Linked DNA regions of Homo sapiens. The protein of the gene in region 1 purifies or fractionates together with the protein of each later gene. This does not show direct contact. Each region holds a gene or a part of one and is shown on either strand. Other genes may lie near its edges.

Region 1 (3,389 bases):
ACCTGGGATCAGGGGTCAGGGCCGACCTGCCGTGGGAACAGCGGTCGGGGCGAGGGGTGGGAGGGTCCTGGCCGCGTGGGGCACTCACTCCTTGAGCTCCTGCACGTTCCGGATGCTGGGGCTGCGCAGGCTCACGTGCTCCTGCATCTGGCTGTGGCTGTACTGCACCACACCCGCGTACGACTGCCCTGGCTCGAACTGTGGGACCGGCACCGGGGTCAGGACGCGAGTGCTGCCCCAGGTCCGCATAAGCTTCCCAAGGGTGACTCTATTGGCTGCGGGTGCCCAGAGGGTGGCATGGCCCCCAGGACCTCAGGACCTGGGTCCCCTGCGATTGGCTCTGGGTGCACAGAGGGTGGCACAGCCCCCGGGACCTGGGTACCCTGCGATTGGCTCCGGGTGCCCAGAGGGTGGCACAGCCCCCGGGACCTGGGTACCCTGCAAAGCAATCTTCCTTGGTGGATGAAGCCCTCCTGGGTTCTGTCCACGAGGGACAAGCCCACACCCAGCACTCAGGACCCCAGACTACCGCCCTTCAAGGAGAGGGGGAGACCCTCCCTCATCTGGGGCGCCTGTGTACAATGGGCCAGCCTCGCCAGGTGGAGCTGGAGGCCTGGACGGGCTGGCGCGTGCCTGGCATCCTTGTCATGAGTAGGGAAGTCACAGGGATGCAGCGGTGGCCTCGGGAGGCTGAGGTCTGGCGCGGGCAGGGGCGGCCGGCAGGGTCGGGGTGCACCTGGGCTTGAGAAAGCCGGGCGGGGCGAGGCCTCACCTTGACCAGCTCGTCCCGGCTCAGCCGGTCGATGACCTTGACGACGAAGTCCTTGGCAATCTCGAAGTTCTGCAGGCCAATGCTCTCTGAGCTGTCCAGCACGAACAGGAGGTCGATGGGGCCGCACTTGCATTCTGCAGGCGGGGGCGGTGTCAGCAGAGCACGCCCCTCCCCTCCAGTGCCCTGGCCCCTCCCCTCCACCGCCCTGGCCCCTCCTTGGCTGCCACATCCTCACCTGACACGTTGGGGTCCCCCCGTCTCAGCCCCAGAAAAGCCCACCCCCTCCCATGGCCCCGTAAAGGCTGCTCTGTCCGGCGGCTGGTCAGGGCTGGCGTTGCTCAGCCAGGCTAGGGTGGGGCCTGTGGGCCAGAATGATGGAGCAGGGACCCCCCCAAGCCTGCTCCTGGTTATTTCAGTTATGGGTGAAAGAGGGCGGGGCCCAGCCCAACACCCGGGAACCCTGCTGGCTTGGAGCAGGCCCCAGAGGGGGCGGGCAGGTGCAGGGAGCTGCGGGCGGGGACCAGAGTGCCATGTGCTGTCCTGTGACATGTGTGGGACCCAGGCCTCGCTCCCCGACCCCCGGGATCCATTCTCTCAGGAGCTAGAGCCTGGGTCTCACCACAGCAAGCTGAGGAGAAGAGAAAGAGTCAGTTAGACCAGTCAGGGCCGCGTCCTGCGCACGTCAGAAAGGCTTTTACTCTTGGGGCAGCCTCCCCGCCTCCCCGGCCGCCCTCCTTCCCCGGCCTCCCCCCTTCCCCGGCCTCCTGCCCCGCCTCCCCGCCTCCCCGGCCGCCCTCCCCACGTGGCAGCTCTGCACCGCACCGGGGACTCTCAGCCTGTGCGGGGACCCGGGGGCCTGGGAGGGCTTTGGAGGCCGGTAGGGGCTGGCTGAGGAGCCTCCTCAAGGATGTACCCAGAGACCCAGGCCCCCAACAGTGGAGACACCCTTCTAGGAGTGGAACAGGCCAGGCTGGCGGCCCTGCTCTCCCTAACGAGGACGGCTTCTCAGAGATACTCACAGCACATTTTCATGATGATGTCCAAAATCTCGCATTCCTGGGGAGGGAGAGACGAGGGTACTGGGGCCATAGACAGCCCCTCCCAGCGGGGACTGTGGGCTGCTGGATCTCCAGGTCACCCTCCCTGGGGCCCCCACAGGGCGGGGTTTGGGCAGGAGGTTCTTTGCAGGTGTGCCCGGCTCTGCCCACTACACCCCTGCTACTGGGCTGGACCCCTGACGTGGTCATAGAAACAGCGCAGTCATGGGTCTCCCCGTGGCCGTCACGGGTCCCCTCATGGTCCTCATGGGTACAGGTCCCCCCATGATCCTCACACGTCCCCCCCCATGATCCTCACACGGGTCCCCCATGATCCTCACGGGTCCCCCATGATCCTCACATGTCCCCCTCCATGATCCTCACGTCCTCCCATGATCCTCACACGTCCCCCCCATGATCCTCACATGTCCCCCATGATCCTCACATGTCCCCTCTATGGTCCTCACACATCCCCCTATGATCCTCACGGGTCCTCCCATGGCCGTCACGGGTCCCTAGGGCCTGGCACCAGCTCTTTGTCCACAACCCACCCCCCCGTGAGCAGCGTCTACAGGAGCACCCATGGACAGGACCCACACCCCAAGGGATGGAAGCTACAGTGGTCGCCCCCAGCAATGTTCACAGAGCCCCACTTACGTCCGGCCCAGGCGGTCCTTGGTGTCCTGGGGGTCCCTGTCCGAGAAACGGAGTAGAGGAGCTCTGAGGGTGAGGAGCCCACTGTGCTTCCTGAGCTGAGACAGCCCCCACCCCCAGGGCCCTGCCCCTCATCAAGCCCACCCCTGCCCGGTCCCTCCCTACCCAGCCCCTCGTCCTCCAGTGACGGTGCTGTGAGGGCAGCTGGGGCTTCGCACACTGGTGGTCCAGGCGGCCATCCCAGGTGGGCCCCACCCTGAGGACCCGCTGTGTCCCTGGGCTCGGCTCTGCTGCCCTGGCCACCACCTGGCCCTGGTGACCGGCACCTCCCACCCCCAGGGCCTCCCAGATGACGTGCTCCCCAAAATTCCCTCCCGCCGCCTCCCACTCTCCCAGCCTCTTCCAGCATTCCCCAGCCCCAGCATCCGGCGTCCCAGGCACAGCCCACCGTGGCCTCACCCAGCCACATCCACCCACCTGGGGGCCCTCGGGACCCCGGTACCCCTTTGCTCCTTTGACTCCTCGGGGTGCAATGTCGTTGTTCTAGAAGGGAACAGCGTTGTGTCAACAGACCGTGCACCACCCGGGCATCTGCGCGCTGGCCCCGTCCACAGAGCATCCAGCAGCCGGGGCCCATGAGGCCTCCCCAAGCGGGTCCTGGTCCACTGCCCTTCAAGGGCCCAGCCCTCTGGCTCAGGTGGACTTGGGGCTGGCCCTGCCTCCCATCCACACTTACATCGTCTCCGGGGTCCCCGGCTTCTCCCTCGTCCCCCTTGAGGCCGGGGTAGCCCTTCGTGCCCTGCAGTGACGGGAGAGCACTTGGTTAACAAGGGTTTTATTTTGTTTTTAGGAAGTGGAAATTTTAAAAGGAAAAAAATAAAGATAAGAGAGGCACTCTTCTCTTCCCTTCCCCCACCACACACATT
Region 2 (4,091 bases), on another chromosome or scaffold:
AGGCTGGGTGCCCTGGCTCATGCCTGTAATCCCAACATTTTGGGAAGCTGAGGCGGGCAGATCACTTGAGGTCAGGAGTTTGAGACCAGCCTGGCCAACATGGTGAAACCCCATCTCTACTAAAAATACAAAAATTAGCTGGGCGTGGTGGTAGGCGCCTGTAGTCCCAGCTACTCGGGAGGCTAAAGCAGAATTGCTTGAACCCAGGAGACAGAGGCTTCTGTGAGCTGAGATCTTGCCACTGCACTCCAGCCTGGGCGACAGAGTGAAACTGTCTCAACAACAAAAAATTAACAAAATGATGAAGCTCCCTTCTCTTCATTTTGTGTGTGTATGTGTGTATGTGTGCACATACATGTATGTGTGCATACGTCTGTGTCTCAGAATATCCTTAATATATTTTCAATTTTCTTTGTTCATGATTATTCTCTTCTTCCTTTCCCTTTAATAGTTTTCCCGTTTTGTTGTGTTTCCTTGCCTCTAGATGTATCCTAATCATCATGCCATTTTTCTTCTTCAGTGTTGTCTTCATCTATATAATTTTAGATCGTGAGCTGAAATAGCTCCTTCTTTAAAAAAAAAAAAAAAAAAAGAGAGTCTCACTCTGTCTCCCAGGCTGGAGTGCAGTGGCATGATAATGGATAATGGCTCACTGCAGCCTTAAACTCCAGGCTGAAGCTACCCTCCACCTCAGCCTCCCAAGCAGCTAGGACAACAGGCGTGTGCCACTATGCCTGGCTAATTTTTATTTTATTTTATTATTTTTTATCTTGAAACGTAGTCTCACTCTGTCACCCAGACTGGAGTGGAATGGCACGATCTTGGCTCAATGCAACCTCCAGCTCCTGGGTTCAAGCGATTCTCCTGCCTCAGCCTCCTGAGTAGCTGGGACTACAGGTGCGCACCACCATGCCTGGCTAATTTTTGTATTTTTAGTAGAGACGGGGTTTCACCATGTTTTGGCCAGGCTGGTCTTGAACTCCTGACCTCAAGTAATCTGCCCATCTCTGCCTCCCAAATTGCTGGTATTACAGGCATGAGCCACCATGCCTGGCCTAATTTTTATTTTTTGTAGGGACAGAGTCTTGCTATGTTGCCTAGACTGGCCTTGAACTCATGACCTCAAGCAGTCCTCCTGCCTCGGCTTCCCAAAGCACTATTGCAGGTGTGAATTACCACGCCTGACCAGAAAAAGCTCTTTTACTATAGGAGAGCAGGCTGAGTGCTCTCTATATATACCATATATGTGTCTGTGTGTATAATAGAGAGCACCTTTTATATGGTATACATATGTGATACATACATACACACACACACACACACACACACACACACATATATATATATACATATGAGAGCATTCGCTCTTGAGGACAAGTTCATATGTAGTCTTCTCTGCTCAAGACAAGATAATGCTTTCATATTAGTTAATGTTAAGCTCCAAAGGAAGAATTATTTCTTAACTAGAAGGTAGAATATATTTTTGTAACTTGTTAAGACTGTATATTGATTCAGGACAGGCGCTGTGGCTTATGCCTGTAATCCCAACACTTTGGGAGGCAGAGATGGGAGGATTGCTTGAGTCCAGAAGTTCAAGACCATCCTAGGCAACATAGCAAATCCCCATCTCTTAAAAAAAAAAAAAAAGTATATATTGATTCTAAATCTACAGACTTGGCTCTTGGCCCTAATTCTCCTTTTTATCTTTTACCCAATTTGATAACAGTTTTTCATGGTGATGTGTATTGTATATGTCCTGTTTGGTGTTCTGTGGCTGGCATGGTCTGCCTGCTACTGGAGAGATCTCCTGAGAATTCAGTTTTGGATTGGTGCTGTCATCTTCCTGGGAATGCTTGAGAAAGCTGTCTTCTATGCGGAATTTCAGAATATCCGATACAAAGGAGAATCTGGTAAGTAACCAGAAAATCTTTGCCAGTTCGAGTGGTTGGAAGGTGAGATGTATGAAAATATTCCTAAGGTCAGCAGTCACTACATAGGCTTAACTTTTCAATTACTTAATTATTACAATATCTTAAGCAGAATCACTATGACTCTGACTTTTGTTTTTAATCTTATGAGTTCAGTGATGTAAGACTAATTTTACTGAAATATGCTCACAAAAGTCACAACAGTAGTGACCATTTTGGGAATGATTATTAACATCAAATCTCAATTTCTGTTGATTTCTAAGGCACCATTATACATCTAAGAAAAAAAGTAAAGCTGTCAATTTAATTGTAAAATGTCACTGATTGTAAGACACACCTTGATTTAAAAAACCTCAAAATGTGGTGGGAAAGTGCATCTAACTGATAAAATATAGTCATATCAAGAAAATAGGAGAGTGCTTATGGTTTAGTAAGGTGAACTGGTAATGACAGAAGTTGTTTTATACTGTAGTTTTTTGTGATTGCTTCAGTTTTTTCTTGTCAGACCATTTAATTTAGTCATAATTATTATTGTGAGATAAACTGATAAGATTTTCCCTGGTCTTTGAAAGGTCTTGAAAATAGTAGATCTGAAAAAAGTTAAGCTGTACATGCCAACAAGCGTGTACACGAGTGTGTTTTGTGCTTTTCTATGTGTAGCTGTATTTCACAGTTTTTAAAAATGGGGGAAATTGTCTCGATGCTACAAACTGTCCATATAGGGTGAGGTATTCTGTTAAAGTTTTAGTGAATTTGGGGCCAGGTCGGGGAGGGAGCTGAGTTGAGCGCACCCAGATTGCCATACATAGACATGAGTAAGATTGTGAGTGGCATCAGCTTGTATCCTGTAAAAACTGTGGAAGAGGTATTCTATTTTAGCAGGACTAATATCAATGCTTATTCTGAAGAGTGTAGAAAGCAGCAGTCTAGTATTGGCATCTGGCCTGTTGCCAAACCTAGATTATGGTGCCATTTCTTCCCTTCTTTTTCATAGTCCAGGGTGCTTTGATCCTTGCAGAGCTGCTTTCAGCAGTGAAACGCTCACTGGCTCGAACCCTGGTCATCATAGTCAGTCTGGGATATGGCATCGTCAAGTAAGTATTAACTTCCTGTATGGAAGAGCAAATTAAAATGCTGATTAAATTAAAACAGTATTGCATGTTCCCAATGTAGTAGTTCTGAAATAGTTGATAAAAGAAATAATTCTGAAACAAGAAAGGTATTTGAAATTTTGTAGCATTGTAAATGTTGGGAAAATGTGTTTCATTTTCCATACTTCCAAATATATTCCATACTTCCAAATATATTCCATACTTCCAAGTCCAAATGTATTCCATACTTCCAAATCCAAATGTATTCCATACTTCCGAATATATTTCCATACTTCCAAAATATTTTTTGCAAATTAGATTTTTTATGGGAAACGCATTCTTGCTGTAACTGTCTGAAAATATTTTTCTATCCAAAAAATTTTATTTTTATTGAGGAGTGTCTTCTATAGGCATTCTTTGAGGCATTGTTCTAGGCCCTGGGGATATGGCAAGTAAACAGAAGATTTTGAGCTTACATTTGTGGAGGGAGGGGACAAAGACAAAATTTAAGTGGGTAAAATATTTTAATATGTCAGTGGAAAGTGCAGTGGAGCAGGTAATGCAGGAGCTAGAGCTTGCAGTTGTACATAGGGTGATCAAGGAGGGCTTCACTTAATGACATTTAAGCAGAGACTTCAAGGAGGTGAGGGAGCTATATGTATACCCAAGGGAAGAGATGCTGAATTGAGATCAGATTCTATATATATTTTGAAGGTGGAACCAGTGGAATTTGCTGATGGATCAGATGTATGATAGGAAAGAGAAGAGGAATTAAGGATGATGCCAATTGTTTTGATCTGATAAAATGGCAGGATGGAATTGAAGATTTACTGAGTTCAGGAAGACCTTAGGTGAAATAAGTGTGGAGCAGGGGCAAGATTGGAGTTGAATTAGATAACTAAGTAGGGGAAACAAAGGGGAGAGGTTGGGGCAGAGATAAAAGTTTGGGAGTCATGAAGATAAAGATATTATTTAAAGTCATGAAGGCCAGGCGTGGTGGCTTACGCCATAATCCTCACACTTTGGGAGGCCAAGGCGGGCAGATTGCCTGAGGTCAGGAGTTCAAGACCAG
Region 3 (4,091 bases), on another chromosome or scaffold:
GAGACTCTTTCCTGAGGCTTTGCTTGTCCAGTAAGTGCCTGTGTCCTCTGGAGGAGAGAGGACAGCCATGGCACGTGGCATCCCCAGTGCATCTGGTGTGAGCTTCCACATCGCTAACCTCCCCTGTGACTGGGGTTGCCTCTCTAAGCCACTAAAATCATCAAAGCATGGTTTCTGATGGAGATCTCCATGAAATGTATTCTATGGGCTCATGTATTCAGCAGGCTCTTCCTGAGCCTGTTAGGAGGCAGCCCTGTGCTGGATGCTGGGCCCAAAAACAGTTGGCAAGTCACAGGCCCAGTCTCAAAAATCCCCTTCATCACTTCAGGAGACTGACACACACAGGAAGGTGCCAGAAATTCCTCAAGGAGTGTAGGAACAAGGCCACATACCTCAGGGAAGGCTTCCTGAATGTTGGTTGCATGTTGATAGCTCATTATTTACTGAACAAACACATACATCTTCTCCATTTGTTCCTCCCAACAACTCTATGAGGTTGGAATTCCTTTCCCCTTCCACAGATGAGGACATAGGCACAGAGAGGTTAAGGAGCTTGCCCACGGTTAAGAGCAGTAAGAGGTTAAGGAGCATTCCCCATGGGGAATGTGTGCGCTGGCTCCAAAGCCATTCTCCTAACCGCTTTGCCACACTGCCTCCCTCCTTGAAGCCCCACTGTGTCCCACAGTCCGTGGAGTGGACAGACATGCAAAGAGATAATGAAGTCCTAGCCAAGCTGACTGGCTGGAGCGCCCCTGGCGACGGAGCAGTGACTGCTGTAGAGAACTCACCCTGTAAGCTACAAGATTCAATGGAGTGAGTGTCGTGTCTGAGATATGGACAGAGTGCATTGGGAGCATCCATAAGGGCCAGGGATGGGACAGTCAGAGCCCTGGGAGCATGGAGGACAAGAGGAGACCTTTGAGTAGGCCTTGAGTCATGAATAGCAGTTTGCCAGATGAGGAAGTAGGTGAGAAGCAAATATCCGATGGACAGGACACTGTGCAAAGGCTTGCTCTTTCAAAAAATGAACGGTGGACATAAGAAACCTTCAGGACCCAGGGCCATGAGTCACGAGTGTCAGTGACATGGGGGTGGCAAACTCTGGGCAAGATGGGGGCCCTCCGCCCTGCACTGAATGGCCCGGGCGGCTGAAGCCTGCGATACTGGGCTGGTTTCCTATGGCCTTCCTGCCACCTGCCCCTAAACACACTGAGGCCAAGCTGCGGATCATCCTCTTGCCAGCAGCAATCACTATGTCTTCTTGTCACTTCCTAGCTCTGGACTACCCTGGTCTGGGCACCACATTTACGTCGTGTGTAAGTAAGAGTACATAGGCCACGAGGAAGCATCTGCTGTGTGATTGGGACGCACGGATGCCGAGGTCTTCGGCCTGGCTCCCTGAGGGAACTTTTGCTCCCTCTGTAGTTCTGGATTGGGCTTTGGTGAACGGAGGGCTCTCGTTGCCTTCCAGATGTCTGTTCTGCCCCTCACTGCGTCTCTGGAACCAAGATGGTGCCTGGTACAATCTCTGCTCAGTAAATTCTTGGTGAATGAAATGTTGCTGACTAATCTGGAAAGAACACCAGTCCAGGCATCATGAGGCTTGGGTGTGAGCCCTGGTTTGGCTACTTCTTGGCACGTGGCCTTCTTTAAGTCTCAGTTCCTCATCTATAAAATAGGAGTCAAGCCGTGTACGGTGGCTCATGCCTATAATCCCAGAACTTTGGCGGGCCAAGGCGGGAGGATTGCTTGAGCCCAGGAGTTCAAGACAAGCCTGGGAAGCATAGAGAGACCCTGTCTCTGCAAAAAATAAAAATGAAAATTAGCCGGGTGTGGTAGAGCACGTCTGTGGTTCCAGCTACTCTGGAGGCTGAGGTGGGGAGGATCGTTAGAGCCCAGGAGGTCAAGGCTACAGTGAGCTAGGATTGTGCCACTGCACTCTAGCCTGGATGACAGAGAGAGTCCCTGTCTCAAAAAATAAACAAATAAAATAAAATAGTGACAATGACCCTACCTTGCAGAGATGAAAGAAGGCACGTGTGCACACAGCCCCTCCCTGGTCCACGTGCAGCTGCCGGCTGACCCACAGGTGGTTCCCAGTGAACCATGGGAGGGACAGCACACACGGCGGCCTGAGGCCTGGCCATCTGGCCTGCTCACTGGCAGAGGGGAGCATGTAAGACATGGCACCCTGGTCTGTACCTGGGACAGTAACTGACCAGGACCCCAAGACATTCTGCCAAGTGGCCCTTGGCCAGTCAGGTGAGACCTAGCCTCACAGCAGTAGAGGGGCCAGGAGGACATGCTGTGGTATGACCAAAAGCCACAATCATGTCACAGGAGTGAGTGGGCCCTGGCCTGGGGCTTGAGAACACCCCGGGAGGCAGCCTGCCATCCCCCATCCCCAATCCTCCCCCAAACGTCCCAGAGGCCTCTTGCTGGAACCCAGCCTGGTCCTCCCTGTGAGGGGAGGGAGTGTGTGGCTGTCAGTACCTCCCCACTGCAGAAGGAGCATCCCCCGAAGCTCTGGGGGCCCAGAGCTGACTCAGACCCAGGCTTGGCCTGGTGGACTCACAGGTGGGGGAGGGTGTCAGTCACAGATAGAAAGAATGACCACGCCACAGGCCGGCGGCTCTAACAGGGAGGCCCGCAGACAGCCTGGAGCTGTAGGGGTAGGGTGCAGGGAGGGTGCTGTGGTGTGGGGACACTTAACTGGCGTTGGGGATGGGTAGTTGGGAGCTGGCCAGTAGAGCTGAGCAGACGTGGCTCAAACCCCAGCCCACTGGCATGTGACATGATACTTTGGGCTCCCTTCTGCTGTCTCTGCTTCCACCTCTGTGCAGTGGTAATAAGAACAGGCCTCCCTCCCATGGTTGCCTTGAGGAGGAAATGCAGATTCATGGGCACACTGCCCTGGTGCCTGGTCCACAATTTGCCCCAAACCCCAGGAGCTGCTGTGATTGGTTAGCATGGCTTCCCCCACGGCCATGGCCATGATTTAAGAATAAAGAGAATTCTGCCTGCCAGAGAAGAGCAGGGAAAGGGCATGCCTGCAAAGGGAACAGCCTGTGCTGAGGCTCAGAGGTGTGAAATGGCAGGGAGTATGTATTAGTCTCTTCTCTCATCGCTATAAAGAAATACCTGGCTGGGTGCAGTTGCTCACGCCTGTAATCTCAGCACTATGGGAGGCTGAAGCGGGAAGATGGCTTGAGCTCAGGAGTTCGAGAGCATCCTGGGCAACATGGCAAAACCCCATCTCTACAAAAAATACAAAAATTAGCTAGGCGTGGTGGCTCTCGCCTGTAGTCCCAGCTACTCAGGAGGCTGAGGCAGGAGCATCTCTTGAGCCCAGGAGGCAGACATTGCAGTGAGCTGAGATGGTGCCACTGTATTCCAGCCTTGGTGACAGAGAGAAAGAGAGACCCTGTCTCAAAAAAACTAACGGACAAACACAAAACAAAACAAAACAAAACTGGGTAATTTATAAAGAAAAGAGGTTTAATGGGCTCACAGTTCTGCAGGATGTATAGGAAGGATAGTGGCCTCTGTTTCTGGGGCGTTCTCAGGAAACTTACAATCATGGTGGAAAGTAAAGGGGAGGCGGCATGTCTCATGACGACAGCAGCAGCAAGAGAGAGATGGTGTGGGGGCACACTTTAAAACAACCAAATCTAATGAGAACTCACTCGCTCTACAGTACCAAGGGGAGATGGTACTAAACTAAACCATGCGTGAGAACTCCGCCCCGTGATCCAGTCACCTCCCACCAGGCTCCTCCTCCAACACTGGGGGTTACAATTCTACACGAGATTTGGGTAGGGACACAGATCCAAGCCATATCAGAGTATCAGGAGATGGAAGGTAGACAGGAGGCTGGAGAGGTGGGGAGAGGCAGGAGCTGATGATGGAGCTGTCCATGGGCAGAGCCAAGTTAGAGAGCACTTCGTGTTTTACTGTTTTTCAACAGATAGAGGCCGGAAGGTACTAGAGGGTGCGGACGGGGTGGTCAGGGAGGATCGGAGGTGAGCCTTGGGCAGGAACCCAAGTTAAGTGCAGCAGTGAGCTGTGCTGATGTAGGGGCGGAGGCGCAC
Region 4 (4,091 bases), on another chromosome or scaffold:
GAAGCACCTTTTGCATAAGGGCAGCCACCTAATCCGGATACTGCGGAGTCCACCACATTAATTCCCATCTGGAAAACAAACCAAACCACCTAAAGCTTGTGTGTTTATGGCATGTAAATTGTTGCATTTCTATTTAACCTATGGTAAACTGCAAATAAGCAAAATCTGAACTGGTTATTCAAATATATTCACTTACCCAGTGGCCTCTAGAATGGTCCCCAGGGTGCTTATTTCTTTTATGTCTAATCTCGTCTTTGAGGCTAACAGAAATTCTGCTAAGGCTCTCTGGAGCTAGAATAATCTTTGATCAAAAGTAAAATGGTGTTGTTCGTTGGTAACAGCTCAACTGTAGGTGGTGAAGCTTAGAGTAAGGTTAATTTACTCCAGATTTTCACATATTATCCAATTCTCTAACTTTATTCTAAAAGCATTTTATAAGCAACATGAAATATTTTCAACATTCTACTTCAACATCAAAATGCCTTAGATGACTGGTATGTGAGGGCAGGGGAGAGAGAAGTCACTGGGTTTGAAATAGGGTTTTGTGGGCTCACTTTACCCATTCAACTCACCAAATCTTTATTGAGACATTCATTGTTTTGCACACAAAACTCCACTACTTTGGGAGAAGGAAGAAATATTTAAGAGACAAAACACTTGCCACCAGCAGTAACGCCAGCTTACATTATTGGTTCCTCACTAAGTGCTGGATGCTGTTATTAACAAATTATGTGTATTAATTCACAATTCTCCCCAAAATCCATGAAGTAGATACTCTTGTATCATCCCCAGTTCTCAGAAAGAAAACTCAGGTACAGAGGGAATAAACAATTTACCCAAGGTCACTATCTGGTAGGTGAAATCTTCTGTCTCCAGGGAATCTACACTCTGCTTTGATTTATAGCCTCTGGAAACATGAGATTTGGTACATGATTATGCACTTGGGGATATCAGAGGTGGAAGAGCTCTCTGTGTACCGGAGAAGTTATGGAAGACATGAGTACAACAGGGTCTGAGAAGGGCCCCGGAGTTCAAATGTTAATAATATGAGAAGAACAGAGGCAGGCATGCCATTCCTCTGTGAAAGGTAACAATTCGGTAATCAGAAGATACAGTAAAGCCTAATCCGATTCTTCACTCTTGGGCATTAAAGAAAAAGTAACATGATCACATTTAAAATGAGAAGCACCTGGAAGCAGAGCTCTTTCCAACCAACTATATCATGTTTCTCAATCACAGGTTACTGCTACATTCCCTGAGTTTTTGACTCAGAAGGTCTGGGCTGCGACTTGAGAATTTTAAATTTTGACAAGATTCTGACAGCTGCTGCTCATGTGGGAATCTCTTTCTCCCTTCCTTCCTGCCTTCCTTCCCTTCTTTACTTTTTTGATAAACTTTTAATTTTAAAATAGTTTTTGATTTTCACAAAATTTGTGAAGATAAAACAGAATTCCTATATATTGCACACTCAGTTTTCTCTATGGTTAACATCTGTTACAGAAAACATTATTCAATGATACTTATTAAAGCACAGCAAGGATGAATTTATTTAGGAACATTGCAGTAGGTACAGGGACCACATGCAATGCAGGAGAGAGAGACTGTGCTGAAATCCAAATACAGCATGGGCAAGTGAGAATTTATAGCCAAGGAGTGGGGTGGGGGTCAGTGGATTAAAAATTACTAGGAGAAAACATCAGGAGTGAAAGGAATTCTGGCTAAACTGACCTACCAGGATTTTTGCAGAAGACAGGATAGGGTGATCAGACATGACCTTCGGGTTGGTAGAGGAGGAGAGACCTAATCAGATCGGGCATTTGGATATTGACTATAGGGGTTCTTGTTAAGCTAATTTAGTAGGAATTGCTAAAACTGGATTTTACAAGGAAATGAAGAGGTGGGCTTAGGAGAAGTTTTAGAAATCTGACTGAAGTTTGGCTTCTTTGTCAGATCTTATTATGGTATATTTGTCATAACTAAAGAACACATGTTGGCAAGTTTTTATTAAAATCCATGCAATATTTAGATTTCTTTAGACTTTTAAAATGACATTTCTAAAGACATTTTTAAACTGGTGTCTTTTATCTGTTCTGGGAGCTCACCAGTATACCACATTAGTAGTCAGGTATCCTTAGCCTCCTATGGGCTGTGACAGTTTCTCCGAACTATTTTGAGTAGTATAAGTCATGTTTTTGTTTTGTTTTATTTTGTTTTTTTGAGATGGAGTCTTGCTCGGTTAGCCAGGCTGGAGTGCAGTGGTGTTATCTCGGCCCACTGCAACCTCTGCTTCCTGGGTTCAAGCGATTCTCTTGCCTCAGCCTCCTGAGTAGCTGGGATTATAGGTGCGCACAATCACACCTGGCTAATTTTTGTGTTTTTAGTAGAGACAGGGTTTCACTATGTTGGCCAGGCTGGCCTCAAACTCCTAACCTCAAGTGATCCCCCCTCCTCAGCCTCCCAAAGTGCTCGTCATGTATTTTGTACATTGTCCTTCAACTTGGGTTTGTCTAAGTTTTTCTCCTGTTAAGACTGGAGTTATAGAGTTTTGGGAGAAGACCACAGAGGTAAAGTGTCATCCTGAAAGCATTATATCAAGGATATATAATATCAATATAAATTATGACGGCTGGTATTAACTTTTCTTGTCTGGCTGAGGTGGTGTCTGCCAGGTATCTGCACTATAAAGTCTCCCCACAGTCTTTCTGTATTGTACGTTTTGGAAAAATGTCACTATGCGTAGCTCACACTTAAAGAATGGGGAGTATCTACACAAAAATTTTGAATTCTTCTGTATGGAAAATTTGTCCATTCTCATTTATTTACTTATTCTAACATGTATTTATATTAGGGAGGACTCATAGCTAATTATAGGTAATTATTTTGCACTTTGGGTTATAACGTAATACCAATTTATGTCTTTTGTTGCTCAAACTGTTCAACATTTGGCCATTGGGAGCTCTCTCACTTGGCTCCTGTGTCCTTTAGGCATGCCAAAGGGACTGTGGGTTTTCAACCACTTGCCTAGAGTTTCCTTTGCAAGACTGAAAAGGATACTTACAAAATCTCACAAAGGAAGAACTACAGTCCTTAAAAAGCCTTAGAATTCTTTGGGACCTAAGGAAAGTTTACAAAGGATAGACTGTTTCTCTACCTCCATTTCTTCTTCTTATACTCTCCAACATGAGAAGGTCTCTATTGCTTTCTTTCCATTACCACAACATTTCTCACATAATGATCTGACAAGCTTAGTCATATTCAGCAGTAAAATACTGGTACCTTTAGGACAATTTTCATTTACTATGAATCAAAGCAGTAAGAATGGGGAATTATACTTTAGAAGTGAAATTTGTGGCATTGTTCAGTACTTGGAAAAGACAAATATTAAGATGTTGACCCGTCTCTGGGAGTCTGCCATGATATAAACAGGCAGGGGCATTTCTTTACTTATAGGTTAAAACTGATCTATTCAGTGGATCTGAATGTATCAGTTTAGGAGTCAGAAATTTCCATTATTCTCAATCCTGTCAACCCATTGGAATCACCTGGAGCCCTTTTCAAATGACTAATGTCTAAGCTTCTCCCTAAATTAATCAAACCAGAATCATCTCTGTCCTAGAATCTCCTCTTATCCAGTGATTCTCAAATCCCTAAAGTAGAGTTTCTTATCTATCTCACCCTTTATCAATCCGGGGTATGGGTCAGCTTTAACTTTAGAGAAACTTTGTACCCTGGGGCAGCAAACAGTTAACCAGGACTGGTCAGCATTTCAAGAAAAGCAGGTTTTGAAAAAATACCCAAAAAAGTATAAAGTAGCAAAAGTCAGAGGAATCAGCCGGATAGATGAGAAATGGCTTCAGCCCGAAATGTGGATGATTCACTTCTGGGATCTGGAATCCACGTATCATGTTCCTTTTCTCGCTACTGAGGATCAAGACCCTGCAACTACAGGAGTCCCAGAAGGGAAACTTGTTACCTTGTCAAAACAACAGTTTTTAGTCTTAATTGGCCTTTTGGGAAAGAGTGAGGAAACAACAGTCATTCTTCTATTTTGTAACTAAAGGCCAATGTAACCTATTGCTTGGGCAAGAGTG
Region 5 (4,833 bases), on another chromosome or scaffold:
ATTTTTTTAATTAACTGGATTTTAGAAATAAGATTAATGTTCTTTATTGGGAATTTTAATATTTAACAATTTAATAATATCAACTTTGCAAGATTTCTGCAATATTTTTGACACTGAGGATTCCACATGGTATTTCTATTTTTATGAGTTCAGTAAAATATTTGTTTCACTCCAAATAAATAAATCCTTAAGTTAATTTGTTATTTACAATAATAATTCTACAGGAACTGTATTTTTTGAAGATGTAAACTAAAGAATTTAGAAATGGAATATCATCATGTTCCTAATTCACTTAAAAGTCTCTCAGCAGTAGCCAGGTACAGTGGCTAACGCCTGTAATTCCAGCACTTAAGGAGGCTGAGGTGGGAAGATTGCTTGAACTCAGGAGTTCAAGACCAGCCTGGGCAACACAGAATTTGCCTGTACTAAAAATTTCAAAAATTTGCCAGGCATGGTGGTGCACACCTGTAGTCCCAGCTACTTGGGAGGCTGTGGTGGGATGATCACTTGAGGCTGCAGTGAGCTGTGATGGTGCCACTGCACTACAGCCTGGGGACAGGGAGACCCTGTCTCAAAATAAAACAAAACAAAACCAAACAAAAAACTCTCAGCAAAAAAAAAAAAAAAAAAAAAAAAAAAAAAAAGGCATAGAAGAAGCAACTATGGCAAAATGTTAACAACTTTTAAAGTGCATAATGGGCATATGGCTGTTTATTATACTAATGTCTCTAATTTTCTATACATTTAGAACATTTCATAAAAAAAAAAGTAAAACAATTGAAAAAGGACCATACAACTAAATTATCCCAAAACCTCCCCAAAGTAAGCAGGAGCAATGGCATTGTTCTGGACAAAGCATCAGTAAGGCCATTGACAGTAAATTAATAGGTCATTCCAGAAACTTCTGTATATTAAAAAACATCAACCTTTTATGATACCACTTCTTTAATTTCTTACTCAGGGAATTATGAGGAAAATAATAATGACTTTCTGGAAGTTGAGATGTAGTTTTTCTAGGTCCCTCATGAACCTTTCAAGGCTTTTTCATTTGTATTGAGTCTCAATTCTTGTAAGTATAACCAGATTGGTCAAATATTAGCTTGTCTTACCACTGCAGGATAAATGACAGGCATTAACTGCTCCTGGGGTTTTGCCATCATTACACCAGTAGCGGCTATTGATCTGAAATATCCCATAATCAGTGCTTCTGTCTCCAGCATTGTAGTTTGTAGCTCGTGTGTTGTAACCACTCTCCCATTTGGCCAAACACATCCCTGAAAAGAACTTATTTTTAGTAATAAACAGCAACACTAAGTGACTTATACTCTATAGCAAAATCAGTTCTACTTAGCTACTTCTATTTTACTGATTTGTTTTATAAGTATAAAGATTTACTTATAAAATATCTTAGCACTTTAGTGTTAAGATAAGGGACTTGTAAGAGAATCCTTTTGTAATGCAAATCATCTTGTAACACCAACGAACAATATAACATACTTTTAAAATATTAAAATACATGTTTGTTCCATTGCTTTTACCCTTCCCGTGCTCCCATCCCTCAGGCAACATTCAGCCAAGAACAGAAAAATCAACAGAGCTGTTGAGTAGATTTTGTAAATTCATAGCAGATACATAGGCTGATGGAAAAATGCTTTTTTTAATCAGAAAAACATAAGGATTTTCTGATAGAAATTTTCTTATAATATCTAAAGGTGAATTTGGATATCAAGTTAGAATCTTGAAAACAAGACTATTCCGTGATTTCATCCCTTCACTCATTCATTCAAAAATAGCTATTGAGGGGAAATGTCTGAATTCAATCTGAAAACTACAGAGATTATTACATCGACAACTATGTACTAAACTATAAAATAACTTTTCCTCATGGCACATCTTGAATTGTGTGGGAGAAAATGAAAGATAGTTAATCAAGTAGAGTAGATAAAAATAATAAAACATTTCATGCTGAGTTTCTGGGATCCTATACAAAGAGTGACTGAAGGGAACTAGGTTCCTACTGCTCTTGTGTAGGGAATTCAATATATTCTTTAAAAACATCACTGTTAAAAATCCCATGTCGGCTGGGTGCAGTGGTTCACACCTGTAATCCTACCACTTTGGGAGGCTGAGGTGGGCAGATCATTTGAGGCCAGGAGTTCAAGACCAGCTTGGCCAACATGGTGAAACCCCATCTGTACTGAAAATACAAAAAATTAGCTGGGTGTGGTGGTACACACCTGTAGTCACAGCTACTCAGAAGGCTGAAGCACGAGAATCACTTGAGCCCAGAAGGCAGAGGTTGCAGTGAGCTGAGATCATGCCACTGCACTCCAGCCTGGGCCACACAGTGAGACTGTCTTTAAAAATAAAATAAAATAAAATAAAAATAAAAATAAAAATCCCACATCACGGCAGGGGACTTGAAGACAAGAAAAATACTGCATCACTCTAGGCTCTCAGAGCCCAAGTTCAAAATGGGAAATAACTGGAGTCACATACCAAGGACTTGAGAGAGCTCTGCCAGGTCCTCAAATGTATCTTTCAGTCAGCTTACATGTGCCATTGAATCTCAGGCACCCAGCAAACTTCCTAGCACTAGAACAGTACAACAGGTCCTGTTTTACTTAGAATGGAATTTTCCCCTGCCATGCCCGTATTCCTTTATCGGGTATCTCTGGTTATAAAGAACCAAACTGATGTTTTTAGCCATTGTAAGTATACAAACCCACAAAGAAATAAAACATCTATTCACTCAAAGCCCCTTCTTCTTCTTCCTTCTCTCCTAGTGTCTGTTCCATACGTAGCTAATTCTCTGGAATTATGGAGAGTAGACTTACAGTTTGCTAGGCTGATTCCCCTGTAGCCATCCATTCCCAATCTTTTCAGAGTTCTGGCCAACTCACACCTTTCAAAGACCTTGCCCTGGACCGTAACAGAAAGGAGGACAAGCCCCAGAACAATGAGAGCCTTCATGTTGACTGCTAGGTCAGAGTGCTAGGCTGACCAGGGTGAGCTGGCCCCAGTATTTAACATCTTTTAACTTCCTTCTTCCCCTTGTGGTTTGGGGGCTCCACCCTTTCAGTTGTGTGGAAAACAGGAACTGTCTATTGATCCACTGACTCTAAAGAGATTTTTTTAATGCTTGAAGAGAGATATGCTGATGTCCTAAGAATTAGTCTACAGGAAAATAATGAAATGGAATTGTTTAAAGTACTGGCTCTGGAAGAATTGGGGCATAGCACTACTTCCAAGACAGGAACTTTCTTCTGTTTGATTATGAATTTGAGCAATTATAAAGAAAAAAATGACTATTTTGTGCAGCTTAAAATGAGCTGTGATTTTTGAGTAACATTCAATTTTGTGAAATTGTTTTGTATGCATTCACTTTTTTATATTTATCTTTTTTACTTAAAATTATTTTACATATCTTTTCCACAAAATGGACATGACACATGTGCCTGTTGTCTTAATGGGTGTATAGTGTGACACCACGTTGCTCAGCTAGTTTCTTACTCTAGACTCTTTTTGTTACTATAGCAAATTTTTTATTATTATAAATCAGTGTTTTACTATTATAAATAAGGTTCATGTGAACAACTTTACCAACTACCTTTTTTTTTTTTTTTTTGAGATGGAGTCTTACTCTGTCACCAGGCTGGAGTGCAGTGGCGCAATCTCAGTTCATTGCAACCTCTGCCTCCCGGGTTCAAGCAATTCTCCTGCCTCAGCCTCCCAGGTAGCTGGGACTACAGGCATGTACCACCATGCCCAGCTAATTTTTGTATTTTTAGTAGAGACAGGGTTTCACCATGTGGCCAGGATGGTCTGGATCTCTTGACCTCGTGATCCGCCCGCCTCGGCCTTCCAAAGTGCTGGGATTACAGGTGTGAGCCACCACATCCGGCCTACTTTACCAACTACTTTTCACAATACTTTGCCTCCCCTTTCCATATTAGAACATAAGGGGTCATTAGAAAGCAACAGCATTTTAAAAATAAAACCTACCCAAACATATATCCAACTAAATGCTACCTTTGAAAATAGCAATCTCAGGAGGCTGTGCACAGCTTTTAAAACAATGCTACCAGAACTCAAAAAGAACTGCACTTCTGTATCTGCCTAAGAGGACAGATTCTGAGCCACACAAAGTGTCATCACTTTGTAGTTACCCTTATTTTTCATCAGTGGCCTCTAAAGATTACCAGATTTGGTTTTAAATGACAGTTCAAGGACCCTGTTCAAAAATCAAGAATAATCTCATTTTTCAGGCTAGGCCTAATTTTGATTCTTCAATAATAAATAGGGCCAGGTGCAGTGGCTCATGCCTGTAATCCCAGCACTTTGGGAGGCTGAGGTGGGTGGATCACCTGAGGTCAGGCGTTCAAGACCAGCCTGGCCAACATGGTGAAACTCCGTCTCTACTAAAAATACAAAATTAGCTGGGCGTGGTGGTGCGCCTATAATTCCAGCTACTTGGGAGGCTGAGGCAGGAGAATTACTTGAACCCGGGAGGCGGAGGTTGTGGTGAACTGAGATCACACCACTGCACTCCAGCCTGGGCAACAGAGTGAGACTCTGTCTCAAAAAAAAAAAAAAAAAAAAGAAAGAAAAAAAAAATGGCCAGCTGCGGTGGCTCATGCCTGTAATCCCAGCACTTTGAAAGCCCAAGGCAGGCTGATCACCTGAGGTCAGGAGTTCGAGACCAGCCTGGCCAGCATGGTGAAACCCCGTCTCTACGAAAAATAGAAAAATTAGTTGGGTGTGGTGGTGGGTGCCTATAATCCCAGCTACCTGGGATGCTGAGGCAGGAGAATCGCTTGAACCGAGGAGGCG
Region 6 (4,853 bases), on another chromosome or scaffold:
CGAGTCAGGTCTGTGAGTGAGTGATAGAGTGGGTACATCAAAGCTTCAGTGTTGGCTGAGTGAAAGAGACCCAGGGAGTGGCCAATTTCATGAGCAGCAACGAGAAATAAATTGGTCCCTATTTAAGAAATTGAGAACAATAGTTACTTATTTTTTAAATACATGTGCATTACACAGGTCTGCTGTGCATTGTATTGGTTTTTACTTCTTGGAACCACACAGGGCTTTTTACACCTTGTTTGTTGGTTAATTGAACAATTGACTAATTACACACTTAATGGAAAGCTAAGTGTATTTTAAAACTCATACCTGTAATCAATCTTTGAGATTGATTTCCCAGTTACATCCACTTGCCCCCCATGGCCCCAAACCCACCCCCAGCCTCACAAGCATATTAACTCCAGAAGAACCAGATCCCTTTTCTTGTACTCAGGAATGGAATGAACCCACTTGCTTAGCATATCAGATATTTACCTTCATTTGTCAATGCAAAGCTAAACACTGTTTTAATATATTTACATTTGCCATTTGCAGTCTCAGTTAAAGGAAACTATATTCATGTTAATTGATAATGTCTCAGCCTCATCATCATGAAGTACATATTGAGACTAAAAACATGAATAATGATAGATGTCATAGGATTTGCAAAATTGGTTTAAAACACAGTATGCCCAATCATGTCTAGCATTTGTCACACAACAGATTTAGAATACATAAACACTGGCTTTATTCAAAATTTTTTCCTTCATATTTTTAAAAACACCCATAATGCTAAAATTGGGAGGCATTGGGTAATTATGATCAATATAGTAAGTAAATCTACCTTACTTTTGCTAGTATTACTTGTGTAACTTGTGATGCTAGGAACAATCTCATTTGAGAGTTTGCAGGAAGGTTTCTTTACAAGAATTCGTTAACTCAACCAATCAAGAATTCTATCCAGGACTAAACTCACATTTGTACGTCCTACAGAGGTTTACATTTTCATTATAAATCCCAGTTAAACCTCAGACATAGTATTAATTGTTTTCCTATTTTTTTAGAAGTAGTGTTAATTGTTTTAGCTGATTTTTTTGAAAACTTTGGATGTCATTCCCCAAAACATACAGTTATGAACTGAGAAACATTCTTCTACCTAAACAGTTTGAACGTTGTATTTGGGAGTTAGTCTTTTCCTTCAGAACAAGCCCATAAAAATTCTTTTAACCTAAAAGTACTAAAATAATGCCTCAGCCAGAAAAAAAAAAAAAAGAGAATCTCAGTTTCTGAAATTTAATTCTTATTTCTGGTTTGAAGAGTAAAGAAGTAAATGGAGGAAATTACATAAGTAACATCCAGAGCACATTTTAATGTAGATTCAGTGCAATATACTATCCCTTGAATGTTTGTATTTTGATATGAGAAATTTTTCTTAATAATGGTTACCCCTAGATCACAAAGATCCAGTCATTAAAGAAATACTTAATGATATTTCCTATATTGTGCTTACCAATATAGGAAAACTGTTAAAGCATCTGAAAATATTTTCAATAATAATTAAAACAAAAATATATTCTGCTGATCTCTGATCCACTGGAAAATCCAGAACATCTCATTTCTTGAGCATTCTTGGTTATTAACAGATTTCTACATATAAAAAAATTAATGCCAAAATCATTCTGAGAGATGTGTAACTAACCTGTTGTATCCTTTGTCCATTGTTCATCATCATCAAAGTGGGCATCTCCATTAATCCCTGGCCCAGGGGCATAGGCATGGGCCAAAACATTTCCAGGTCCATCAAAAGGGTAAAAGTCTCCATGTTCTAGTAGGAAAAAAATTTATTGGAAAGATATGTAACAAGGATCCCTTTTGAGCCTTTTCCAGTACAACAACACCAGATAGATGAATGGATACATTTCATGTGTTTTTTGTTTTGTTTTGTTTTGCTTTTTTTTTTTTTTTTTTTTTTTTACCTCTAACTGCAAAAGAGATCATTATATCAGCCTCTCCTTCATACAGCCTGGAGAATGTGAGTGGAGTCACCTCTTCCCAGACTTTCAGAGCTTTCTCAACAGCAGAATCAACAGCATCTTTTGGCAAATCTGGTGTATAATTCACAATCCTGTAGGAGAAAAATTGAAGCAGATGCTATTTTCTCCTATGATATAGTTTATAAAATTCCAATCTTATGTGAAAACCCCTCTGAACCATTACCTGTATGTAAGGTGGGTTTTCCTCCACTTCGGGATGCCAGGAAAGGTTCTGAAGTGACCAACATCAGGAACTCCACACCTGGGCTTGCGCATCACCTCCAGAGTGTCGGAGTCCAGCTTCCCCGTCACCTCCAATCCAAGGAACTTCTGCATTTCTCGGATTTTTTTAACAACAGGACCACTGTCCTTTCTCCTAACAAACTGTTTCACATCTTTTTTGAGGTCGTAGTAGTTTTCTAGATATTTCTAACAGAATAAGTATAGTTTTTAGGTCACTCTTACAATTTTTACTATAGCTATCTATTTATAGTAAGTTTTTGCAGTTGCTCACTTCTTAATCTATTTGGAGTATTTCTCTAGCTTGCTGAAATAATGGCAAATTTTATAATATGATACTAGCAACACAAATATTTAGCTAAAATTACGTTGCATTAAAAAAAAAACTGAAGCTGTTCCAAAGCAAGATATGGTTCATCCACTCTCCACTTGTTACTCATGTGCCTTAAGCCCCAGTGCTGCTACTGCTATGGTGTTGTGTGATCTTAAGAAAACACCTAATATTTCTGGCCTTTGTTTCTTCCTACATAAGAGGAGAAGCCCAAATGGTGTGATAATGAGACCTTTTCCACTTCCAACACTCTATAACTCTCTATTCTTGAACTGTTCCTACACAGTAAGCTCAAGCATTCTATGTGGGTTTTAAGACACACAGAATGGTTTCAGCTTACTCTGGAAGCTCCCCACCTGGCCAGGTCAGTTAGTGTTAATTACCTGAACAAGGTTCATGCTGGTGTCCTCACCCCTTGCAGCTCCATCCAATGGATAGGCTGAGCAAACTGCCACGCACAGCAACAGTAGGATTGGAAGACTCTTCATTTCCACTGGCTTTACTTAGCTCTATGTTGTCTCTATGCCTTGCTGTCTTGCCTGCCTCCTTGTAGGTCCAACCTCGGGAGCGCAGCTTTTAAAGAGTGACAGTGTTTGTTTGGATCACCCGCAGCTTGACTCATCCTTGCTTTCATCCAAATGGCAGCAGGACCATTTCCAAACATTCCAAATTCAAAGTAGGATGATACAACCTACTTTACTAATTTCTCTCAACCTTCCCAATTTTGCAAGGCAACACAGTGATTAATCTCCAGGAAGTGCTTCCTGTCTTGGTAGAGGAGAAAACTGGAGCATTTTTTTTCTTCTGGAAAAATTGACTGGAATTCACTAGACAATTTATGTTTGTCCTTTTGAGAGAAGAAGTAGGTTGACTTGGTAAAAATCAGAATTGTGCAGAACTTCTAAAAGCAGTTTTATTTTAAGAAACACATTATAAAAGCAAATAAAAGATGTAAGTGGAAAGTGTACATACATAGCTATAGTCTATACTATATACAATTATACTCAAAACATAAAAGATAATATCTAGAAGAAATTTAGAAGGGGTGATTTATTTTTCTGAATCTGATTTGTAATGCCTGCTATTGACTGTCGTTGGATTTGCTGGTTCTTGAGGAGGAAAACCTCATGGGCAGAATAGAACAAAGAGGGTCTGTGAAAAAGAAGGAAGTATATTCCCTTTGGGTTGGTTTTAATTCTGTAACCAATTTATTAATGGGTGATGGGCCCACGTAGCTGCTCCATAAATAGTTGTAGAATTGAAATGAATTACATTGCTTACCGGACTGAAATTCTCTCTGTCCTTGTCTTCTACACATGTCTTATTCTCTTTCAACCTTTTCCCCTCCTCCCTAAATTCAAATTAGCAGATGCTTTGAAGTTGAAGAACAGAATCCATCCTAAATTTTCTCTTCATGCTCTTCTGTTTTCTTCCTTTCCTTTCTTTTCTGTTTCTTTGTCAAGTAAAGTGTTGCTCACATTATTGGTGTATAATAAATGCTTGAATGCAAGACTCTAAACATATTCAGAGGAAGACATTTTGTAAAACTTTTATAGTCCTCTTGCCACCTGCCACCATCCATCTCCTCAATGCTTCCCTGATCACCACATTTTGTTTGTTCTTTCTTTCTTTGCTGACTTGCTTATTTGTTTGCTAAAGGGAAGAACATCTTGGGAGTAAGAACTCAGTAGAATGATGGATACAAATGTGCATTTATTAGACCTTTAATAAGTGCCCATTTTGCTTCCTCTCATTTATAACTCTTTTGCATTTTCTTCTTTGCTTTATTTTTTGTGTGTTTCTTAATAAACATTGGAGAGATTTTACCCAATAAGTTTAAAGGGATTTCTCTGTGGCAATAAGATCCCTATGACTGAAGATGCCCACACAGTTGATAGCCACTTGGCAGGGGGCTATACATCACATTTAAGCCTTCATTTTTAGACTAGATTATGTCTAAAGACTTTTTCAAATTTTATTTAAAAAATAGAGACAGAGGTTTCACTATGTTGCCCAGGCTGGTTTCGAGCTCTGGGCTCAAGTGATTCTCCTGCCTCAACCTCTCAAAGTGCTAGGATTACAGACATGGGTCACGGCACCTGGCCTAAAGACATTTTAAAACTAGTATTCTATGGTTCTCCATTCCTTTGATGGGGGGAAAAACCATGTCTTGTCCTGATTGAAATACAGGGAAAATATTTGGCCACATTGATATGAGGACAAGGAGAACAGAGTGGTGGCAGTGATGTGAATTCCAGGAAGAAACAGTG
Region 7 (4,091 bases), on another chromosome or scaffold:
TGAAACCCTGTCTCTACCAAAAAATACAAAAATTAGCTGGGTGTGGTGGTGCAGGCTTGTAGTCCCAGCTACTTAGGGGGCTGAGGCATGAGAATTGCATGAACCCTGGAGGCGGAGGTTGCAGTGAGCCCAGATCATGCCACTGCACTCCAGTCTGGGCGACAGAGCAAGACTCCGTCTCAAAAAAGAAAAAAAAATTATACAGCCTCCTAAATGAAAGAATATACGTGTTTCAATCTTTTCTTTCTTCATGACAAGGAGAGAATCATTATCTTCAGTATTAATTGAGCTAGATTTTCTCAAAACCTCTTACTATGCATAGAAAGGTTTTGCTTGTGACTGTTTTCTTTGTCCCAATACAGGAAGAAATTCGATACATGACCTATAAGACCTCTGAATTATTCTACCAAGTCTCCACTCTGCCCTACTTTTTTTTTTCGAACGGTGTATTTATCTGTATACCTGGCTTTAAAATTCACAGCATCACGCCCCATATTCTGCTTTCTCCGGTTTCAGCTACTCTTCCTACAGGCCAAAGAATGTCTGTACTCTGATTTCTGCTTAGCAATGTTTACTTCATTTACAAAATCAAGACAGTTCTAGTAACAAGGGAAGATTATTCTAAGGTTAGCATTTTTTTTTTTTTTTTTTTGAGAAGGAGTCTTGCTCTGTCGCCCAGCATGGAGTGCAGTGGCATGATCTCGGCTCACTGCAACCTCCACCTCCCGGGTTCATGCCATTCTCCTGCCTCAGCCTCCCGAGTAGCTGGGACTACAGGCACCCACCACCATGCCCGGCTAATTTTTTTTTTTTGTATTTTAGTAGAGACGGATTTCACCATGTTAGCCAGGATGGTCTCCATCTCCTGACCTCGTGATCTGCCCGCCTCAGCCTCCCAAAGTGCTGGGATTACAGGCGTGAGCCACTGCGCCCGGCCAGCATTTTTTTCAACTCTAACCATCAACTCAACATAAAAACATATATATATACTTACTGTTTCACTACCAGGTTTCCAGCCAGCAGGGCAGACTAAAAGAAACAAAAAGAGGCAGAAGACATTTTAAAAACAGAATTCAGTTACCTTCAGCAACTGACTTTTTCTGTTTCTATATGAAACTGAATAGAATATACTAATAAGAACATTTCCAGACCACCGAGCACATGACTTCTATTAGCTGCCTGTTGACACCAAGGAATTTTAGTCATGGAGCTCATAAGCAGGCAGCTAATCTATTTTCATTTTTACCAATTATGTTTAGTTACATTTAAAATATAAGAAATCAAATTGATTGCCCCTCTAATACAGTTGGAAAGTTTGGGAATCTGGTGAGCTGAAAGGCCTGGGCATGGCAAAAATTCCTCCAAATTTACATAAACTTCCAGTACGCTTGTTTGCCATGTATACTTCAGTACTTTGTACTGATGACATGATTCACTGTTTGTCAAAAGAGACATTAGAATGCATCCTGACTCAGTGACATTTTTAAAAGGAATATATAATGTGTTCTATTTTAGCAAAATGATGAACTTGTAGATTACAAATGTGATACTGAATAAGCCCAGAGATTACATTACTATACTTCATCTTAGCTGAAAGGCAGAGAAGTGATCAAGGATTATTTAAAAGGCTAAATTCAATAATGCAAAGAGGCAAATGAAAACTACATCACTAAATGTTGCCAGATTGACACATTCTAAGCTTGCAGAAACATAATTTTAAAAATTGCAGTAGCAGAAACTTTTGTCTTTGAGTTTATCAAAAAGGACTATGCAAATAGTGAATATTTTTGCATCTCATTTAGTAAGCAGAATATATTAGTTTATATATATATATATATATATATATTTTTTTTTTTTTTTTTTTTTTTTTTTTTGATTTTTAGTAGAGGTGAGGTTTCACTGGGTTGCCCAGGCTGGTCTTGAATTCCTGAGCTCAAGCAATCCTCCTACCTTGGCCTCCCAAAATGCTGGGATTTCAGGCATGAGCCACCATGCCTGGCCTGATATTTTGTTAAAGCACTGTAAATTATAATTTGGTCTGTTAAAAGGATCTGCTAATAATTTGTAAATAATCAGAAAACTTTGGAAATATCGATTACTTTTACGATAAGAAACCTAACTAATTATGCTATCTTTCAAACTAAAAAATCAAAAGGTTAGAAGGGAGAGGTACCTTCTCCGTGTTTGTCAGTGTACTGGAATGCTTGAACCAAACGTAGTGTCTCATCCACTGATCTACCCACAGGAAGATCATTCAGAGTAATTTGTCTTAGGATTCCTTTGTCATCAATAATGAAGAGACCTCTGTAAAACAGAAGAATGGTAGAGATGAGGTCATTTCTTCTCATTTATGTATTGTGAATTCCTATACCATCCACACAAAAGGATGCTATACAGAACAAACACCACACTACCTACCTACTCCAATGGTATACACACACACACACACACACACGTACACACACCTGTGGACATCCCTCCCTCAATCTAATGTATAATTTGGAATTATCACTGTAAAACTGCAGCTTTAAAAATTTGTTTTTGGCTAAGAAATGTACCAGAGTATTTACAGTTGTTGAAGATAATCTGACCTTTAAAAACTATGTGCATATGTACATGTATTATTTTGAAAATAAATAATAAATTTTTTATTTGTTTTCAAACAGGATCTCACTCTGTTGCCCAGGCTGAAGTGCAGTGGCATGATCTCGGCTCACTGCAGCCTCAACCTCTTGGGCTCAAGTGATCCTCTCGCCACAGCCTACTGAGTAGCTGGGACTACAGGTGTGTGCCACCACGCCCAGCTAATTTTTGTATTTTTTGTACAAACAGGGTTTCGCCATGTTGCCCAGGCTAGTCTCAAACTGCTGGACTTGAGCAATCTACCTGCCTCGGCCTCCCAAAGTGCTGGGATTACAGGCGTGAGCCACCATGCCCGGCCTTAACAAAAAAATTTTAAAAAGAAACTACTGGCTCAGGTCAAATAATATAGCTAACGTTAGATAATTTTACTTGGTTAATGTTCAAATGATTCCACATTTTAAAACTGCCTCAGTCGTTTTTGGGGCATATTTATTCTTGGAAATTAACTTAGTAACAGATTTTATGAAAGCAGAAAACATTAAATACTTAGCAAGTACAAAAGAGGGGAAACTACTGGTAGCAATACATGATACAATACAATGAACCTTGAGAACATTATGCTGCGTGAAAGAGGCTAGTCATAAAAGCACATATTGTAGGATTCCATTTATATGAAATGTCCAGAATAGGCAACTATAGAGACATAAAGTAGATTTGTGGTTGCCTAAAGCCAGGGGAAGTGGGTTAGGGGAAACATGGAGTGACTGCTAATGGGTATGGGGTTTTTTGGAGCATGAAAACATTCTAAAATTGTGGTGATGGTTGCACAACTCTGTGAATACACAAAAACCACTGAAATGTATTCTTTATTTATTTATTTTTTTTTGAGACGGAGTCTCGCTGTCGCCCAGGCTGAAGTGCAGTGGCGCGATCTCGGCTCACTGCAGACTCCGCCCCCCAGGGTTCACGCCATTCTCCTGCCTCAGCTTCCCGAGTAGCTGGGACTACAGGCACCCGCCACCACGCCCGGCTAATTTTTTCTATTTTTTTTAGTAGAGATGGGGTTTCACCGTGTTAGCCAGGATGGTCTCGATCTCCTGACCTCGTGATCCGCCTGCCTTGGCCTCCCAAAGTGCTGGGATTACAGGCGTGAGCCACTGCGCCCGGCTATGTATTCTTTATTTTTAATTTTAATTATTTTTTTAGAGACAGGGTCTCACTCTTGTTACCCAGGCGAGAGTGCAGTGGTGTGATCATAGATCATTGCAACCTTGAACTTCCAGGCTCTAGCGATCCTCTTATCTCAGCCTCTTGAGTAGGCTGGGACTACAGGAATGTGCCACCACAATGGCCTAATTTAACAAAAAAAAATTATTTTTTTTTTTTTGTAGAAGACAAGGGTCTTGTTATGTTGCCCAGACTAGTCTCAAACTCCTGGGCTCAAGGGATCCTCCCACCTAGGTCTCCCAAAGAGCTGGGATTACAGGCATGAACTACCATGCCCAGCT

The links.
Region 2: the proteins of COL6A1 (region 1) and TMEM87A purify together in Homo sapiens (co-immunoprecipitation; one large-scale study listed by IntAct). This does not show direct contact.
Region 3: the proteins of COL6A1 (region 1) and HHIPL1 purify together in Homo sapiens (co-immunoprecipitation; one large-scale study listed by IntAct). This does not show direct contact.
Region 4: the proteins of COL6A1 (region 1) and HMGCLL1 fractionate together in Homo sapiens (co-fractionation; one large-scale study listed by BioGRID). This does not show direct contact.
Region 5: the proteins of COL6A1 (region 1) and LYZ purify together in Homo sapiens (co-immunoprecipitation; one large-scale study listed by IntAct). This does not show direct contact.
Region 6: the proteins of COL6A1 (region 1) and MMP3 purify together in Homo sapiens (co-immunoprecipitation; one large-scale study listed by IntAct). This does not show direct contact.
Region 7: the proteins of COL6A1 (region 1) and PRDX4 fractionate together in Homo sapiens (co-fractionation; one large-scale study listed by BioGRID). This does not show direct contact.

Annotation. Positions count from the first base shown.
Region 1 is NC_000021.9:45,998,770-46,002,158, reverse strand, and holds part of COL6A1 (collagen alpha-1(VI) chain precursor), read right to left. Parts: intron 3,263-3,389; coding exon 3,200-3,262; intron 3,007-3,199; coding exon 2,941-3,006; intron 2,503-2,940; coding exon 2,467-2,502; intron 1,829-2,466; coding exon 1,792-1,828; intron 1,401-1,791; coding exon 1,392-1,400; intron 907-1,391; coding exon 773-906; intron 199-772; coding exon 89-198; intron 1-88. UniProt on the Homo sapiens protein: Collagen VI acts as a cell-binding protein.
Region 2 is NC_000015.10:42,235,251-42,239,341, reverse strand, and holds part of TMEM87A (transmembrane protein 87A isoform 1 precursor), read left to right. Parts: intron 1-1,726; coding exon 1,727-1,910; intron 1,911-2,922; coding exon 2,923-3,022; intron 3,023-4,091. UniProt on the Homo sapiens protein: Potential monoatomic ion channel gated by mechanical force, implicated in normal touch sensitivity through the generation of mechanically activated currents.
Region 3 is NC_000014.9:99,647,824-99,651,914, forward strand, and holds part of HHIPL1 (HHIP-like protein 1 isoform a precursor), read left to right. Parts: intron 1-4,091.
Region 4 is NC_000006.12:55,439,492-55,443,582, forward strand, and holds part of HMGCLL1 (3-hydroxymethyl-3-methylglutaryl-CoA lyase, cytoplasmic), read right to left. Parts: intron 69-4,091; coding exon 1-68. UniProt on the Homo sapiens protein: Non-mitochondrial 3-hydroxy-3-methylglutaryl-CoA lyase that catalyzes a cation-dependent cleavage of (S)-3-hydroxy-3-methylglutaryl-CoA into acetyl-CoA and acetoacetate, a key step in ketogenesis, the products of which support energy production in nonhepatic animal tissues.
Region 5 is NC_000012.12:69,346,549-69,351,381, reverse strand, and holds the start of LYZ (lysozyme C precursor), read right to left. Parts: upstream 3,002-4,833; 5' UTR 2,974-3,001; coding exon 2,838-2,973; intron 1,275-2,837; coding exon 1,110-1,274; intron 1-1,109. UniProt on the Homo sapiens protein: Lysozymes have primarily a bacteriolytic function; those in tissues and body fluids are associated with the monocyte-macrophage system and enhance the activity of immunoagents.
Region 6 is NC_000011.10:102,840,476-102,845,328, forward strand, and holds the start of MMP3 (stromelysin-1 preproprotein), read right to left. Parts: upstream 3,135-4,853; 5' UTR 3,072-3,134; coding exon 2,967-3,071; intron 2,442-2,966; coding exon 2,197-2,441; intron 2,105-2,196; coding exon 1,956-2,104; intron 1,805-1,955; coding exon 1,679-1,804; intron 119-1,678; coding exon 1-118. UniProt on the Homo sapiens protein: Metalloproteinase with a rather broad substrate specificity that can degrade fibronectin, laminin, gelatins of type I, III, IV, and V; collagens III, IV, X, and IX, and cartilage proteoglycans.
Region 7 is NC_000023.11:23,680,609-23,684,699, reverse strand, and holds part of PRDX4 (peroxiredoxin-4 precursor), read right to left. Parts: intron 2,305-4,091; coding exon 2,174-2,304; intron 1,030-2,173; coding exon 995-1,029; intron 1-994. UniProt on the Homo sapiens protein: Thiol-specific peroxidase that catalyzes the reduction of hydrogen peroxide and organic hydroperoxides to water and alcohols, respectively.